Linked DNA regions of Homo sapiens. The protein of the gene in region 1 purifies or fractionates together with the protein of each later gene. This does not show direct contact. Each region holds a gene or a part of one and is shown on either strand. Other genes may lie near its edges.

Region 1 (9,137 bases):
AGCATGACCTCATGGGCCCAAAGTACTGCTAGCTCTGAGCATCCCATCCTTACACACTGGCCAGAGGTAGAAGAAGAAACTCACCCCTTTACTCTGCCCCAATTTCCTTTCTTGCTCTGTGGACTTAGGCAATCTCCTCTGAGGTTGTTTTTTGGTTTTTGGTGTTTTTGAGATGGGCTCTCACTCTGTTACCCAGGCTGGAGTGCAGTGGCACGATCTCAGCTCACTGCCGTCTCCGCCTCCCAGGTTCAAGTGATCGTCCCACTTCAGCCTCCCAAGTAGCTGGGACCACAGGCACACACCACCACATCCAACTAATTTTTGTATTTTTTAGTAGAGAAAACATGGGTTTTGCCATATTGCCCAAGTTGGCCTTGAACTCCTGGGCTCAAGTGATCTGCCCATCTCGGCCTCCCGAAATGCTGGGATTGCAGGCATGAGCCCCTGCGCCCGGCCCCGAGGTATTTCACGCCCATGTTGAGTCCACGTTGTCCTCTGGCCTCCCCACACCGCTCAGTGTGCCTCTGCCTCTCCCCGACCCTGTTCCTGAGTTGCGCTGTCTGTCCCTGCTTTCTCCTCCCTCACTAAGCTCGGGCTCCCAGTTTCCTTTCCTTTGGGTTAAGTTCCTTCTTGGTCTCCTGGTCTTTGTGTCTGTCTTCTGGTCTTTCTCCTCTGTGTTGTTGCTGTTGATTTCTGTATGTCCTTCCTCATTCATTCTTTTTATTTTCTCCAGCTTTGTTGAGGTATAATTGACAAAGAAATTTTTTTTTTTTTTTTGAGATGGAGTTTCGCTCTTGTTGCCCAGGCTGGAGTGCAATGGTATGATCTCCACTCACTGCAACTCTGCCTCCCAGGTTCAAGGGATGCTCCTGCCTTAGCCTCCCGAGTAGCTGGGATTACAGGCATGCGCCACCATGCCCGGCTAATTTTGTATTTTTAGTAGAGAAGGGGTTTCTCCATGTTGGTCAGGCTGGTCTCGAACTCCTGATCTCAGGTGATCTGCCCACCTCAGCCTCCCAAAGTGCTGGGATTATAGGCGTGAGCTACCCCGTGCAGCCAAAAGTTGCATAATTTAAGGGACACCCCATGGTGTTTGCTGTAGGTATACCTCATGTAAGGGTTCCCACAATCAAGCTAATGAACACACCCATCATCTCACATAGCTACCTGCGGGCAACACAGGTGGGCCTGGGGACATCATACTAAGTGGAATAAGCCAGACATGGGGAGACAAATGTCCATGATCTCACTTATCTGTGGAGTCTAAAAACTCCCCAGGGCTGGGGGTGGGGAAGGGCGATGTTGCTCAAAGGGTACAAAGCTTCAGCTATGAGGCAGACAGGTCCTGGAGGTTGAAGGCACCGCATGGCAGCTGGAGTTAGTATCCTGGAAATGTGCGGAGAGGAGCGCTGTCCCCACCGCCTCTCTGTCTGAATTTCATCTCTCTCATGTGGTGTTTGATTTAGGTCTTTTCGAGGCATTTACACCTTAGCTGATACTGGTGCTGCCCTGAGGTGCCACCTGTCTGGGCTCCGTTTGCCGCGCAGCCTCTCTCTGGTCTGTCTCTGCTCCGCTGTGTCTATGACTGCTCTGTGTGTTCGCATCTATCTCTTGGGTTCCACTGTCTCAAAGAGAAAAAGGGCTCACTGAGGCAGGGCCCTCCCTTCTCGCTGTTTGGGAGTCATGACTCCAGCCGTGCTCCGCTGACACCATGGAAGGCACCAGAGTGCCCCAGGCAGAGGGACGAAAAAAAATCTGTGTTACCAGGAAAGTTATTTGATCAGCCTCTCTGTAGATTCTGGCCCTATGGTTTATAAATGGGTTTCAAAAGAAAGTGGTATGAAGGAACATAGTATTTAAAAACCAATAAAATCCAAAGCTGTCCTCACAGCGGGCTGGCGGGGGAGGTGTTGCAGGTGAAGCCCACCTTCTGTGAGCCCTGTGCCTTCCTACCCAGGTTGGATGGGGGATGAGGGCTCCAGCGGGGAGGGAGGAAGCCAACCATGATGGTTTCCACAGCTTGAAACCCAATGTGGTTTTTCTTCCTAAATGTAAGCCAGTCAATAAGGGTCAAGTACAACTGGCCTGTGGGTTTCCACCTGCCTCTCCTGACTACTCAGAAACCAGGCCCTCTGGTTTCAAATGTAAATTCCATTTCCTGGTACTTCACCATTAGAGCTTTATTTCTGTCATTTTGAAGACTTTTACGCATTAAGACTTTCTTTTTAAATTTTCGATATGCTCAGAGATTTTAAACTGTTAAACTGAGGGCACAGGTGTCATTCTGACATGGCTTGGTTGGCACCCAGATGTGAATGAGACCCAAGTGTCCTGTGGGTGAGGGCCAGGGGCCAGCCAGAGACCAGAGGCAAACTTGATCCCTTCTGACTTTTGCCGAGGGCCCAAGAAGCCCTTCCCTGACAGCTCCAGGCCCCTTGCTGACACCTGCTCCGAACGTGCCCCCACCTGAACTGTCCACTACAGTTTACCTTCTAGGGTCTCAGGACTTTAAGACCATCTTCCTGAGCAAGGACTAATTCCTACATTCAAGAAACTTCAAAGTCATAAACATTTCAAGTACACGGGGATCCACAGCCCAGGAAAAGGATTCCTTTCTGTACACTCAGGGACTACACTAAGGGAAGCTTGACTAAACCCATTTGTATCACAGCCACAGGAAGTAGTTCACAGGGGCACACACTGAAGCCCACCTCCCTCCCTCGTACTGGCTGGACACTGTCTCTGGAGCATCCAGCAGGATGCCTGTGATGGGCAGAGCCTTCGAATGCTGATACTCCGGAAAAGCACGACTTCCTGCTTTCGCAGATGGCCAGCACCAGGTGACCCTGGTGATCCTGGTGAAGTTTTGCATCAGGTGAACCTAGTGAATTCACCTCCCATGGCAAAACTTTAGTCCTAATGAAGACCGAATGTTTCAATTTATTTTAAAGATATATAGTTTCACTTGAAGTGCAATTTAGCGTTTTATTGAAAATATGTGGGAGTTTTAGAAGCTTGAAACTTTCAGCAGCCTGTAGGACTGTTTGGAGACGAACAGACATTTGTGGTACTTGACTAATTAGAAGCTCTTGGATGTCACTCAAGCCACTCCTGTGGGGTGCCCCGAGAATGTGGCATCTTCCCATATGCAGAGAGCACACCAGCCTTACCCACAAGGTGCCTGTGTAGCAGGGAGAGATGGGAAACCTTGTCACAGCTGCCTGACAGTGCCCTGTTATTCCTCAGCCTGGGACTCCCGCCTCCTCTTGTCTGTCCAGGAAACTTATTCCCTCATCTTCTTACCCTCAGGGGTTCAGAGCAAAGGCCATCTCCTCCTTGACTTCGCCAATTAGAATTGGCTTCTCATTCATCTCTTACGCATTTCTTTCACTTTACATAAAAACGGCATGAGCTTTGTCTGTTCACTCACCTTCTCTTCCATAAGACTGTGAACTTCTTGGGATGTTGTAATCATTTTGTGTCACAAATGACCACCACAGTGCCAGATGTTAGTGCTCGATAATCACTTGTGGAATTGCATTGACCACACATCAGCTAATCTGGTACTCATAGAAGCAGCAGTCACCACGGAATTCAGTCTCAAACTTACTGTGCTTGAGTCAGAGGAAATGTGAGATACTCAGAGGTCTACCAAGCTCTTTATCTTCTCTTCAGTCCTCTCCCATTCCATCATCTGGGCAAGAGCCTTTATCAAGTTCACTTTCTTTTCTGGTATTTGGTAAGGATAATTTGGATTTCGGTTACAGTGGGTCTTGATATTATACCTACCCTAGATTTAGTGGTTTTGGAGGATTTCATTACATAATCACATGAAGTAGTGTTCCATGATCACTAGAGATTTTGGTATACGTGTATTTTACCAGGAGAAAAACAAAGGCAAACAGATTTATTGTTCTAGCAATGAATTCCAGTGAAATCTGAATGATTTTCCCTCCCAAGTTCAACAGAACAGTTTTGTTGCCTTCAAATTTGGGGAACTAATGAATGTCCCATGAAATATTTCCTTTCCAATTTTGTCAGATCAGGTCAAAATACTATTGTTGGTACAACACAAGCCTTGACTTAGGCCTGCCTGCCTTGGGGCTTTTGTCCTGAACAGGATGCCCATGAGTTGGTATAGGTGGCATTCAGCACTCCTGTCTCCGGCCAGTATTACTGGCTCCCCTTCCGAGGGAAGCATGGTCGGGTTGGTCCTCCCTCATTCCCGGAGTCTGTGTCCAGTTGGAGGTCCATCTACCTCTTCCCGTGCTGGGTACAGAGTGTCTTTGTGTTTGCCTAGAGCCAGGATGCCTGAGGGTCCCAGCAGGGATACAGGGCACTAAGAGGCTGGTTCTGAGAGCACAGATTACTACCCTCCCAGCAGAACCTTAAAGGAAGCAGGCAAAGCAGTTTTCATGGGCACTTAACTGGCACACCATCTTGAAAAGGAGCAAAAAGTGGTGTTTGGTGTCCTTGTGGGGTCCTGCACTTCTGTTTTTAAAGAATAGTCATTATAGATCCTTTAATACATAATATGAAAATCAATTGCACTATTTAAATTCACAAAGCACTCCCACATCCGTGATCTTGCATAAGCCTCTTGGTATCCAGTAAGGGAGGTGAGACAGGTTTCACTCGTATTTTCCTCTTAGAGATGAGTCGTGGGAACAACGTGCAACGGCACCCAAGTTCACCAAGCAAGGAAGGGGCAGCGCCAGAGTCGTGGTGCTAAACTCCCGGCTTCCACTCCGGAGCAGCACCGCTCAACGCGGGTCTCCAGGAAACCCAGAGAGCCTATCTGACCTCACCTCAGCCCGGATGCAGCATGACTTTAAAGCTCTTATTTAAGGACATTCTGACCTCTCTACCCACCTTAGCCAAAATAGACTACACAAGTATTAACGCAACATCTGACTAGTCCAGGGAGCAAAACAACGCGAGGATTTTGCAGTTCGCACTGCAAAAGAGCAAGCAAGACTTGTCAACTCACCACCGCACTCGTTTCTGCTCTTTGCAGGTGGTGATGGTGCTATGTCAATGGGCTCGGTTTCTCCCTGTTTTTAAATACAAACTCAACACGTGCACAAGAGGAAAACAGAGCAGGCTGCACGGGGTCGTGAGCCCGCATTCTCGGCCCTGCTGCAGCCCTTGGTGAGCATTTCTAGGAAAAAAAAGAAAAAAGTGTTTCCCTTTAAGGCGGATCCCGAGCGGCGCTGCCGCCAGCAGCGGGTCTGAGGGCCTTGCCCTAGACCCAGGTCACCCCGCCCGGGTATTCCCAGCGCGGGCCCTGATAAGCCATCTGTGTAGACGTTTCCTAGAGCGGGACCGGCTGCGGAGGGCGGATGCGTCTTTGTTCTGCAGCCGCGGGAGGGAGGCGCCCCGAGGGCTGCCTGAGCCCCCGCCCTCGGGCGCCTTTGTCCGCTCCGGCGGAGGGAAGGCGCCGGTTCCGCGGAGGGCGGCTCCTGGCCGAGCTGCAGGGCCCGCTGGCAGGCGGCGGTCCCTCGCTCGCTGTGCCGCTGAGGTTTTGGCTGCGTTTGCTGATCAACAATTAAAGTTTGGTTCGGCAGAGAAAAACATGATGACAAAGTGTGCATAGGGATGTTTTAAGGAAGGAAAACATAATGACGGCCCCAAGCTGGAAGAAAGAGCAGCCGGGCCGAAGTTGCGTGACAGGAACGCCCGCGACTGCGCGGCTCCGGAGCAGCTGCACAACTCGCCCGGGCCGGGAGCTGTCCCGGGCCGAGGCTCATTAGGTATGCGGCGGCTGCGGGCACTGATTGGCGGGCAGTGCTGTGGGCGGGGCCGTGGGCGGAACCGCGTGGGGGCGGGGCTGCACGGAGCTGGTTCTTGTAGGAAGGAGTAGAAAGAGGAGGAGGGATGGGCACCTGGAACCACAGGGCGGCGCTGATGATTGGAGGTATCGGCAGAGGCGGGGCTCTCCCGGGCGGGGCGGTGGGCTCTCATTGGCAGTGCTGGTGGTGGGTGGGAACGGGAGGGGTGGTGAGCGCTGATTGGCCGTAGTGGCGGGGCGGGGCGGAGGAGGAGGAGGTGTGCGTGCCGGGGCGCGGAGCGGCGGGCGCTGATTGGTGGTAGTGGTGGTGGGCGTGGTGTAGGCGTGGCGCGTGGCCGGCGCTGGTACTCGCAGGGGAGGCGGAGAAGGAGGCGGAGGGAGCGATTGTGGCCCCGGCCGCGGTGGCCGGCGCGGCCTGCCCTTTGTGACCGCAGCTCGCGCCCCACGCCCCGCGCCCATGGCCGCCGTGCCGGGCTCCCTGGCCACGCGTGCCCGCCCGCGGACCTGAGCCCCGCGCCTGGGATGCCGGGGATGCGCGTCCCCCGGCCCTGCGGCTGCTCCGGGCTGGGCGCGGGGCGATGGACCTGAGCATGAAGAAGTTCGCCGTGCGCAGGTTCTTCTCTGTGTACCTGCGCAGGAAGTCGCGCTCCAAGAGCTCCAGCCTGAGCCGGCTCGAGGTAATGCGGCCGCCCTCGGGGCGCGCAGGTGCCGGGCACTGAGCGGGCCGTGGTCGCCCGAGCCCGCCTCGCCACCCCTGGGTGGACCCCGAGACCCGTCAGGGAGTTCAAGTTACTGGAAAGCTGGTCCGGTTCCGAAAATCGAACCAAACGGCTCCAAACGTTATCGCTGGGACTCCGTAGTAATTGGGCGGTCCGTGGGTCCTCGCGGGGGCAACTCCACCCCCACTGCATTTCCAGCTGGTTTCTCCGCCGCTGGCTGCACGGGGTGTGGGATGGTCCCCTGTGGGCCACAGGGAGCCCCGGGTGAGGAGGGGCTTTCTCTGCAGCTAGACCGCCGAGTGGCGCGGAGCGCTCCGCGGGGGTCCCTCAAAGTCCCGAGTGGAGAAGCCCCCCAGCTCCGCCCTCCGAGGCGCTGATCAGGTGCTGTCTGCCGTGCCCGGCCGGCAGGTTCCACCTTATCTTGTAGCTCATTCGTGCACTTGAAGTCAGTGTAGAATTCACAGAACGGGGAAGAACAGGCAGCAGCACAATCTGCTTAGGCGTCTAAAACGGCGTTCAGGAGTAAAGAGCCTGATGCAATATCCTCGCAGCGCCGAGGCTGATACAGATTCGTCCTGAAAACCCAGAGTACTCCCAAAGCCCTGTCCTTTCTACCTGTCCCGCATCTTGGCATCTTAGAGTTTCCTTGTGGACGGTTCTCTCGTGGTGTGTTTTATTTCAACCATCAAATCTTATTCTCTTATTCCCAGTGTCCAAATCACATTGTTGAATCTATAGATGACAAAACAGTGAAACGTGTTTAAGTGAAAAAGACATGGTGATGGGGAGACTGAGGCTGGGACCCAAAGATTTCGCCTGACACTGTCCCGCCTTTGCCTCAAGGCTGGCACCTGTGGGGTTTTGGTTGGTTTGTTTCAGCTGGAACAATCTCAAATGTTTCATCTTGGTTTTCTTTGTCCCAGCTGCCATGATATTAGACACAGACATGGGTTCTGTAACCATTGAGAGACCTGAGGAATAGACAAAAAAGTAGAAGAGAATTACTTGTTTAAAAAGTTTCTCTTATGGCATCCCTAAATCAGAATTGGAAGTACTAGATAGGATCAGTATGGCCGGTTCCCGAGGGTAAAACACATCTTTCAAACAAAACTGTTAATCCAGTACTGGAGGAGGGCTTGCTTTTAAGTCTAATATTGAAAGAAATGAAGCACACCAGTGAGGCAAATCATTTTCCTGGGACACAGGCACTTAAAAAATCTGAAGTTGACAAGATCAGAAACTCAGAACAGTATTTATCTTTATCCGGATACATGTCTTTGTTTCCTGTTTCATCTCAATGCCAAGTTTATTAGACAACTCCTTGTCTCCTTCCATTTACTGTCTTTGCCAAGAAGAGGTACACGTGTGAGCACACTCCAGGCATTGTTTATGAAGAGCAGCACTAGACACTGGCTGACCAGTGGGAGTTCAGGAATCTGCCTGATTCTGGATACACACGCCTCTGGTGTCACAGGGTTCTGCAAGGAGGGCTGGGCTGCAGGCGTGCCTCCGGAAAGAATACAGTGGGAAACAAGCGGGGGGGGGGGTGGGGGGGTGGTGGGAATAGGAAACGAGGTTTCTTCCATGTAGAAATAAAATTTCTAGAAGTCATACATAAACCATCAGCGATGTAGGAGGTCAAATGGGCTGAAAATACATGTAGTCTAAGAGCAAGTAGTCAATTAGTGCTTCCTGTGTGCCAGATCCCGTACTAGGTGCTGGAGGTCTCACTAAGATGGTCAATAATGGCCGGGCGCAGTGGCTCATGCCTGTAATGCCAGCCCTTTGGGAGCCTAAGGCGGGCGGATTATGAGGTCAGGAGATCGAGACCATTCTGGCCAACATGGAGAAACCCCATCTCTACTAAATATACAAAAATTAGCTGGGCATGGTGGCGCGTGCCTGTAATCCCAGCTGCTCAGGAGGCTGAGGCAGGAGAATCGCTTGAACCAGGGAGTCAGAGGTTGCAGTGAGCCGAGATTGCGCCACTGCACTCCAGCCTGGCGAGAGAGCGAGACTTGTCTCAAAAAAAAAAAGGTCAATGCTAATACAATGCTCTCTTTTTTACAAATGCATTCCCCAGCTTTCTATTATTTGATACTTGTGAAAATCGGGGTAGCATATGTAACTTTCCTCATTCTATTGCTAAGGGGAAGAAACCCTGAGAGTTTGAGAGTCTTGTTAAAAGCTTTCCAAGGAATTCATTCTGCAAGTGTTTATGGAGGACCGGGTCTTGGGCTGGTCTTTTTCTGGATACTGTGTCCAAAAAGACACGAGACATAGAAGTCCTGGCCTCAGGGCACTTCCACCCAGTGATGAGTCTCACAAGCAGCTGACTTTGTGCCCCAGTCCAGTAAGTTCCTCTTCTGCGCCCTACCCATACTTGAGAAGGCTGCCTGTTCGTTTGTGTGTTCACAGCTGGTTATAGGCCAAGAAGCACTCATCAAAAAATGTAAAACTGAGCAGGGGAGGTCTGTCAATGGATTGAGGTTGAGAAATAGGACACAAAGTACTGAACACAGATGTGTATTTCCTCTGTGTGGATGAATGAGAAAGATAACTTGTTTTATAATAGGAAACATTTTAAAATTGTTTCTGTGAAATTTATATTTTGAAATATACAAAGA
Region 2 (8,561 bases), on another chromosome or scaffold:
ATTGTACATCCAAAAGCCATAAGCAGGTATATCCTAAAGGTTTGGCAGGACACAAATTTCATTCAGGGTTTGTTTTAAAATTCATCAACCCCAAATTATAGCTAACAATAGTGTAGTTAAGGCAACACAAGAAAGGTCCTGACAATTTGACAAATATTTGATTGCCCCTACACACAGTGTTTGCCGCCCTCATCTGAAATAGCTATCTAGAATACGATAAGCATACAAGATGAGATACTGAGTGCTATAATTAAGATACAAAATACTACAGGAATTCAAATCAGAGCACTAACAGATGAATCAGGATGTGACATGAGATGGGCCTTGAAGGAAGGATAGAATTTTTATGAGGATATAAAAGATAGGGTATTCCAGTTTGAAGGCGAGAGAAAGAAGCAGTACGACCAAATGCCCATTTGAATAACAGCAATTAATTCCAACTGTTTAAATTAGGAGCCAAAGAAGGTGACCTGGCAAAAGAGGTTGGTACCATAGAGCAGAGGGCCTTGAGTGTGGAGCTCAATGTGTGTCCTTCACTTGGTAGGCAAAGATAAGTTAATACAAGACACTGAGGACTGGGTAAATCAACAAGACAGCAGGACGCCTTGGGAATATTCCTCTGTCAGCTGGTATGCCAGACCAAGTGATTAAGGGAAAGATCTTAAAGACAACGGCAGCAGTGTGAGGCTACAGACTTGTAAAGTCTCTTTTATCGGATTAAGTAAAACTGGAATTTAGTAAGAATCCACGAAGCACTACAACCATAACCTAAGAAGACAACTCAGGCTTTAAGACTTGCACTCTACTGGGCCAGGTGCGGTGGCTCACGCCTGTAATCCCAGCACCTTGGGAGGCCGAGGTGGGCGAATCACGAGGTCAGGAGTTCAAGACCAGCCTGGCCAACATGGCAAAACCCCATCTCTACTAAAAATACAAAAAATGAGCCGGGTGTGGTGGCGTGTGCCCGTAATCCCAGCTACTCGGGAGGCTGAGGCAGGATAATCGCCTGAACCCGGGAGGTAGAGGTTTCAGTGAGCTGAGATCTCGGCATTTCACTCCAGCATGGGCAACAGAGCAAGACTCCGTCTCAAAAAAAAAAAAAAAAAAAGACTTGCACTCTACCGGACTAAGGACAGAGATATCTTTCTACTATCTGTCATTTTCTTTTCTTTTCTTTTTTCTTGAGACGGAGTTTCGCTCTTGTCGCCCAGACTAGAGTATAATGGCACAATCTCGGCTCACTGCAACCTCCCCGGGTTCAAAGGATTCTCCTGCCTCAGCCTCCCGGGTAGCTGGGATTACAGGCGCCCGCCACCCCGCCCGGCTAATTTTTTTGCATTTTTTTAGTAGACACGGAGTTTCACCATGTTGGTTAGCCTGCTATCGAACTCCTGACCTCAGGTGATCCACCCGCCGCAGCCTCCCAAAGTGCCGCGCCCAGCCCTATCTATAATTTTCATTAAGGCTTAATGTTAGGCCGGGCGCGGTGGCTCACGCCTGTAATCCCAGCACTTTGGGAGGCAGAGGCGGGCGGATCACGAGGTCAGGAGATCGAGACCACGGTGAAACCCCGTCTCTACTAAAAATACAAAAAATTAGCTGGGCGCAGTGGCGGGCGCCTGTAGTCCCAGCTACTCGGGAGGCTGAAGCAGGAGAATGGCGTGAACCCGGAAGGCGGAGCTTGCAGTGAGCCGAGATCATTCCACTGCACTCCAGCCTGGGCGACAGAGCGAGACTCGGTCTCCAAAAAAAAAAAAAAAAAAAGGCTTAATGTTTAGTTTTAAGGAATAAATGTAAGCAGTGTCTAACACATAGTAGATGCTCTACAGATATCACCGCAGTCAATTTCATAGAAAAAAAAAGAGAGAAGCTAGCTCACAAAGGTTTACTGGAGATGGTTTTGTTGTGGTTTTTGTAGACAACTTTCCCCATTTTTCCATAATTCCATAAGCATCACAAGCTTTTACAGAAAAAGGCAGCGTAAAGTATTGGGCCAGGATTCAAATCAATTAGCTCAGCCACTGGCAGACAGCAGCCATGCTGATTAGCCTCCCAGTCTCCCTAAGTTAAAGGAGAAGCACAAATTGAATTAAGATAAATATGACCTAAGGAATCAGGGGCTGGGTAGTTAAAAAGTGTGCAGACACTTCCCAGATGCCACGTACCAAGAAGAGAAAGGTTCATCTACAAAGCACAAAATATTTGCAATCTAACTACACACCGACTTTTCTAAAAAAATAAAGAAAAAATGGAAAGGAAAACATTGCAAATTCATTCCTGGGACCCCAAGTTGTGTCCTCAACCCTCAACGCTCCCTCCCATTCACCCCCTCCCCCCAACAGCTAAATCTCCAAACTGCTTTCCCAGACGAGGCGACACACAGTCCTTAAAGACCTTCTGTATGAGTGGAGTTGCAGAGGTGACCTTCAGTAAACCGGGACAGCTCGTCTTTCCCTGGGGACAGGAGAGGGAACGGCGCGATGGGGACAGGCTCCTTCCCTACAAGCCAGCCCACGCAACTGTGTGCGCGCACCTTCCCAGCAGCGGCCGACCGAGAGGCGCCGAGGGCCGCCCAGGCCTAGCGCTCGGGCTGCACGGAAACTCCCAACCCTCCGGCGGGCTCGGGCCTCGCAACTTCACAACCAGCCGGCGGAAAGCAAGAAGATGCGAGGTGGGGGCGTCAGCAGCCTCACGAAACCTACCATGGGCCAGGCGGGGAACAAGGCCTCAACATTCACCCCAGCCACACTTACACTGCCCAACCGACCAGAGACTCGAGGCGAGAACAAAACAAGCAGAAGACCCGACGCCTGGGAGAGCTTCCCTTGTTCCAGGGCCCAATAGGAGCACAGGGTGGACGGGGGCGGGTGTGCGGCGAGTGTCGCGGATCCCCGGGCGTGCCCGCGAGGCGCACACGGAGGGACGGAGGGGCGCGGGGGCGCGTGCACGCGGCCCGGGAGGGATCTCGCGCCAGGTCCCTCACGGCGCCCACGTACCTGGCTGTAGCTGCGCGTCGGGACGGCGGCCGCCGCCGCCAGCGACTGCGGCAGCAGAGAGGCACGGAGGGCAGAGTAGGACGCGGCGGCCGCGGCCGCGGCAGAGGTGGCCACAGCGGGAGGCCCCGCCAGCCTCCCGGGAGGCACAGGCCCGGTCTGGAGGCCACGCGTCTGGGAGGCAGCGGCCGCGGCGGCCCCGAGCAGCAGCAGCAGGCGGCGGCGGCCCGAGACGCCCGACGGGATAGAGCCAGCGGCGGAGTAGAAGGGCAGGCAGGCGGCGCCGGTGCGCCGGCAGCTGCTGCAGTTACAGCCGCAGCCCCGGAGCAGCGCCCCGAGTACCCAGCGCGTGCCGGCCATGGACTCCGGAGGCGGCGCAGGGCCTGAAGGCAGCTGCTCCAGCAGCGATGGTGGAACGGAAGTGGAATCCAGGGCCGGTTGGGGGTGGGGTGTGCCTGGCACATGCGCCGCGGGCACTGGGTGGGGGGCCTCCGAGAGTCGGAAGGAGGTGGAGGAGAGCGCGACGCTCCGCCCAGTCTCCGCCCTTGGGCGGGGCTGCCCATGGTTTGGGCGGGGCTGCCCATGGTTTGGGCGGGGCTGCCCATGGTTTGGGCGGGGCTGCCCATGGTTTGGGCGGGGCTGCCCATGGTTTGGGCGGGGCTGCCCATGGTTTGGGCGGGGCTGCCCATGGTTTGGGCGGGGCTGCCCATGGTTTGGGCGGGGCTGCCCATGGTTTGGGCGGGGCTGCCCATGGTTTGGGCGGGGCTGCCCATGGTTTGGGCGGGGCCCGGGGAAGTGGGTGCAATCGAACTGCTCTTTTTTCAGGCGGTGGAAACTGAGGCCCAAAGTAAGTGAGGCTAGGGGCCTGGCGCAGTGACTCATTCGTAGTGACTCATTCTTGTAATCCTAGCACTTTGGCAGGCAGAGGCGGGTGGACTGCCTGAGGTCAGGAGTTCGAGACCAACCTAGGCAACACGGTGAAATCCCGTCTCTACTAAAATACAAAAAATTAGGTCGGACGCGGTGGCTCCCGCCTGTAATCCCAGCACTTTAGTAGGCCGAGGTAGGGCGGATCACCTGAGGTCAGCAGTTCAAGACCAGCCTGGCCAACATGGTGAAACTGTGTCTCTACTAAAAACACAAAAATTAGCCGGGTGTGGTGACGGGTGCCCGTAATCCCAGCTACTCAGGAGGCTGAGGCAGGAGAATCGCTTGAACCCAGGAGGCGGAGGTTGCAGTGAGCCAAGATCGTGCCACCGCACTGCAGCCTGGGCGACAGAGTGAGACGCCATCTCCAAACAAACAAACAAAAAAATTAGGTTAGGGCCATCCTGCTCTGGGTAGGGCCGAGAGCTGTAGCACAAGTCTGTGCTGCCCTGCGCTGTGCCACCGAAACCCGTGGTGTGAGTGGCTAAAGAACCCTTTCTGAAAGGAATTGTGATACCTTGGTTATAAAAAAATCGTTGGGATAATATCAGAGATTTGGTACCCCCCGAATTTGAGGTATGTGAGGAAGGAGAACTTCGTTGTTTTAAAATGAAATATAGGCCTGGCGTGGTGGCTCATGCCTATAATCCCAGCGCTTTGGGAGGCTGAAGTGAGAGGATCACTGGAGCCCAAGAGTTCCAGACCAGCCTGGGCAACATAGGGAGACCCCGTCTATACAAAAAATAAATAAAGCTGGGTGTGATGGCGTGGGCCTGTAGTCCCAGCTACTTGGGAGGCCGATTGCTTCAGCCCAGAAGGTAGAGGCTGTGGTAAGCTATGATTGCCACCACTGAACTCCAGCCTGGGTGACAGAGTGAAACCCTGTCTCTAAAAAAATAAAAGAAAACATATATATTTATTATGTACTGATAATACATAACAAAGGTGAACCCTCCCCTAATGAAACTGTATTCACAAGTGAACACACAGAGATTTGCACACACATACACAAAGACTGGTTGTGCAGCTTTTCTCCTCCTGAGCCAGGACTTGTCAAAGACAAGCAAAAGGAAGTTGTTAGAGTAAAAAATAAGAGAAAGCTAGTATTTTTAAAAACTCCTTACTGTGGAAAATGTCAAACAGAAGAGCAGAATGAATTTCCAGAACTTCATAAATTGTCAACACTTTTCAGTCTTGTTTCATCTATCCCCTACCACCATCTTCCAGACCTTATTTTCTTTGCTAGAATATTTTAAAGCAATGGGTATTACATTTAAAGTTTGACTTGTTTAACCTGGACTACTTTTAGGTAAGGAAAATTCAGTATTTCTTAGAAAACCCTTTCCCCAACCAAAAAACAAAGAACAAGAAAAAAATTGATAGGCTTGGCTCTATGAACCTGGAGTATCAAAGAAAAAGGGGTTTAGTTTTGTTTTTTGGGCTAAAATACAGTCCGACGGAGAGTATTGTCATTTTTATACAAAAACAGGGACAAAAGAAAAGGCAACAGTGCAAATACTCCATCTTCCAGGAAGGGAGGCTGGGATGCCTCAGTGTTAAAATGACAAAAGAAAACCCCAGAGCAAGAACCATGATCCCTCAGAGGAGTCCCAGAAATGTCCAAGACAGCCTGGCTGGGAGAGGGGGTGTGGGAAGGGCAGGCCCCCAAGAGAGGTCCCCACATCCTCTGGCTAGAGGCTAGGCCCAGGACCCACCAATGCCAGCAGCCCTCACCTCCCTTTGGGGTGAGAGCAGGTGCTGAGGTCAGGCTGGTTTTTGTTTCCCACTGCTTGTTCGTGATTTGTTCTTGGATACCTGGAAAGGGGCCAGTTGAGGCCTCAGGGGTTGAGGCCCCTCTGGAAATGTGGTTCCTGGGAATGGGCCTGGACATAGAAGCCACTGGATGTCTCTTCCCTGAACAGTAATTTTGTTCATCAGTAATCCTGTAACTTCCCAAGGAAAACAAAGAACAGGCTAGTCTTCCCCACCCCAGCCAAAAAAGAGAAGGGGGTTTCTTCATCTGCAAGATTTGGGAATCCTAGAGTTACTTATTTATATAGAGACAGGGTTTTGCTCTTTTGCCCGAGCTGGGGTGCAGTGGTGGGAATATGACTCACACTAGCCTTGACCTCCCGGGTTCAAGTAATCCTCCTGCCTCAGCCTCCCAAAGTGCTTGGGATTACAAGCATGAACCACCACACCTGACCTATTTTTCTTTTCGTAAGCCTCCCTTTCAAGAAGGAAAATGGGTTAGCCCTTCCTAACAGATCATCACTACAAATAACAGGTTGCTGATGTATTGGAGACTCTGCCTATATTTACTCTTGCCCTCATTTTCTTAATAGCAGCAGTCATCATCTATAACATAAAAATCTGAATGGATTGGAAACCTAAATAGACAGAAATCCTGTACTTTATAATCAGGAGTATAAATAATAAGAGGCAGCCTGGGCAACCTGGCGACATCCCGTATCTACTAAAAATACAAAAAATTAGCTGGGCGTGGTGACACCTGCCTGTAGTCCCAAAAGGTCACACGCTCTCTCACAGCACAAACTGACCCTAAAACCGGAGCCCACAAGGTTGAGGCTTCAGTGAGCTGAGACCGCACCACTGCACTCCAGCACTCCAAAGTAGCACCTGCCATCCTCATGACAGAGTGAGACCCTGTCTCAAAAGTAAATAAATAAATAAAATTAAATTATAAGAGGCCATTGGTTTGGACTGAGCTCTTCTACTATGCCCAAAAGACCAAACCAAAATGCAGTTACTCACCTTCCACAAGACCAAGCTGAAACTAAGTTTATTTGACCTTCTGAGTAATCAGGAGAGACAGATAATGGCCAAATCCTCAAACAGACTGGTGTTAGCTGGCAGGATAAGGAAGGCCCCTTTGCTTTGACCTTTATAGGGAAAATACCTGAAACAACCAATCTGCTTTGTATTCTCTGTTTCTACTTTCCTTGGCCCTTTTCTATCTACAAACCCAACCTCCTTTGCTCAGCTCATCAAAACACTCACTCTATAGAATGAGATGTTGCCCGATTCTAGAATAGAAAATAAAAGCCAATTAAGATTTATAAAAGCTGAGGCCGGGCGCAGTGGCTCAAGCCTGTAATCCCAGCACTTTGGGAAGCCGAGGTGGGCGGATCACCTGAAGTCGGGAGTTCGAGACCAGCCTGACCAACATGGAGAACCCCCTCTCTACTAAAAATACAAAATTAGCTGAGCATGGTGCGCATGCCTGTAATCCCAGCTACTCAGGAGGCTGAGGCAGGAGAATTGCTTGAACCCGGGAGGCAGAGGTTGCAGTGAGCCGAGATCGTGCCATTGCACTCCAGCCTGGGCAACAAGAGCGAAACTCTGTCTCAAAAAACAAAAAAAAAAAAATTTCTAAAAGGCGTGTGCGGTGGCTCACGCCTATAATCCCAACACTTTGGAAGGCCGAGGCGGGCAGATCACTTGAGGTCAGGAGTTCAAGACCAGCCTGGCCAATATGGTGAAACCCCATCTCTACTAAAATACAAAAATTAGCTGGGCATGGTGGTGTACACCTGTAATCCCAGCTACTTGGGAGGCTGAGGCAAGAGAATCGCTTGAACCTGGGAGGTGGAGGTTGCAGTGAGCTGAGATCGCGCCACTGCATGCTAGCCTGGGCGACGGAGAGAGACTCTGTCTCAAAAAAAAAAAAAAAAAAGATTTGTAAACTAAATTCATTGTAATTTTGTCTTTTGACAGTTCTGGCAACTGACAAAGGGACCTAAAGGACACTGCTGATGACTTCTGAGACTCCCGGAGGAATATCAGAGAGGTGCCACAGAGCCACAGATGCCTTTTGAGGTCCTCGGTCTTCCTCATGGAGCCTCAAGGGTTATAGGTAAGTTCCGCTCGGGTGGACTCCTTTTTTTTTTTTTGGCTTTTGAATTTAGGATTAGTTTATGCTGTGAGACAGTGCATGACCTTTTGTGGTTTGCAGTGGCTGACAAGTCATTGGCAAGAGCTGCAGTTTTGTCTTGGCTGGGTGCGGTGGCGCATGCCTGTAACCCCAGCACTTTGAGAGGCAGGTGGATTGCTTGAGATCAGCCTGGCCAACATAGCAAAACCCCGTCTACTAAAAATACAAAAATTAGCCAAGTGTGGTGGTGCGCCCCTATAATCCCAGCTACTCGGGAGGCTGAGGCATAGGAATCATTTGTCTCAAACAAACAAAGAAAGAAACAAGCAGAAAACAAAAAGAAAAAACAAACAAAAAGAAGAGACAGGGGTCTGATGCTATTTTCCGGGCTGGAGTGCAGTGGTTATTCACAAGCACAATCACAGGACATTACTGCCTCAAACTACTGGGCTCAAGCGATCCTTCTGCCTTTGCTCTGAGTGCCTGGGATTATAGGATTACAGGTCTGTGCCATTAAGTCTGGTTTAAGAGCTGCAGTTTTTTTTCTTTTTTGGGGGGGGGGGGTTTGTTTGTTTTTTAGTTGTTTACCTTACTCATGGACTCAGGTAACAAGGAGCTGCATTTTAAGACAGTGTTGCTCTAAGTGGTTATTACTGCAGGAGGCATGAACTCTGGCTTTTGGAATCTGCTGGAATTTGAATTCTATCCTTTTTGTTAGGTTTTCTTGCATGCTTAGGTAGGAAAAA

The links.
Region 2: the proteins of RPS6KA2 (region 1) and GRSF1 purify together in Homo sapiens (affinity purification with mass spectrometry; 2 studies listed by BioGRID and IntAct, with this or other methods). This does not show direct contact.

Annotation. Positions count from the first base shown.
Region 1 is NC_000006.12:166,624,252-166,633,388, reverse strand, and holds the start of RPS6KA2 (ribosomal protein S6 kinase alpha-2), read left to right. Parts: upstream 1-6,137; 5' UTR 6,138-6,369; coding exon 6,370-6,468; intron 6,469-9,137. UniProt on the Homo sapiens protein: Serine/threonine-protein kinase that acts downstream of ERK (MAPK1/ERK2 and MAPK3/ERK1) signaling and mediates mitogenic and stress-induced activation of transcription factors, regulates translation, and mediates cellular proliferation, survival, and differentiation.
Region 2 is NC_000004.12:70,836,475-70,845,035, forward strand, and holds the start of GRSF1 (G-rich sequence factor 1), read right to left. Parts: upstream 3,417-8,561; 5' UTR 3,354-3,416; coding exon 2,997-3,353; intron 2,788-2,996; exon of another isoform or gene 2,706-2,787; coding exon of another isoform or gene 2,703-2,705; intron 2,672-2,702; exon of another isoform or gene 2,518-2,671; intron 1-2,517. UniProt on the Homo sapiens protein: Regulator of post-transcriptional mitochondrial gene expression, required for assembly of the mitochondrial ribosome and for recruitment of mRNA and lncRNA. Binds RNAs containing the 14 base G-rich element.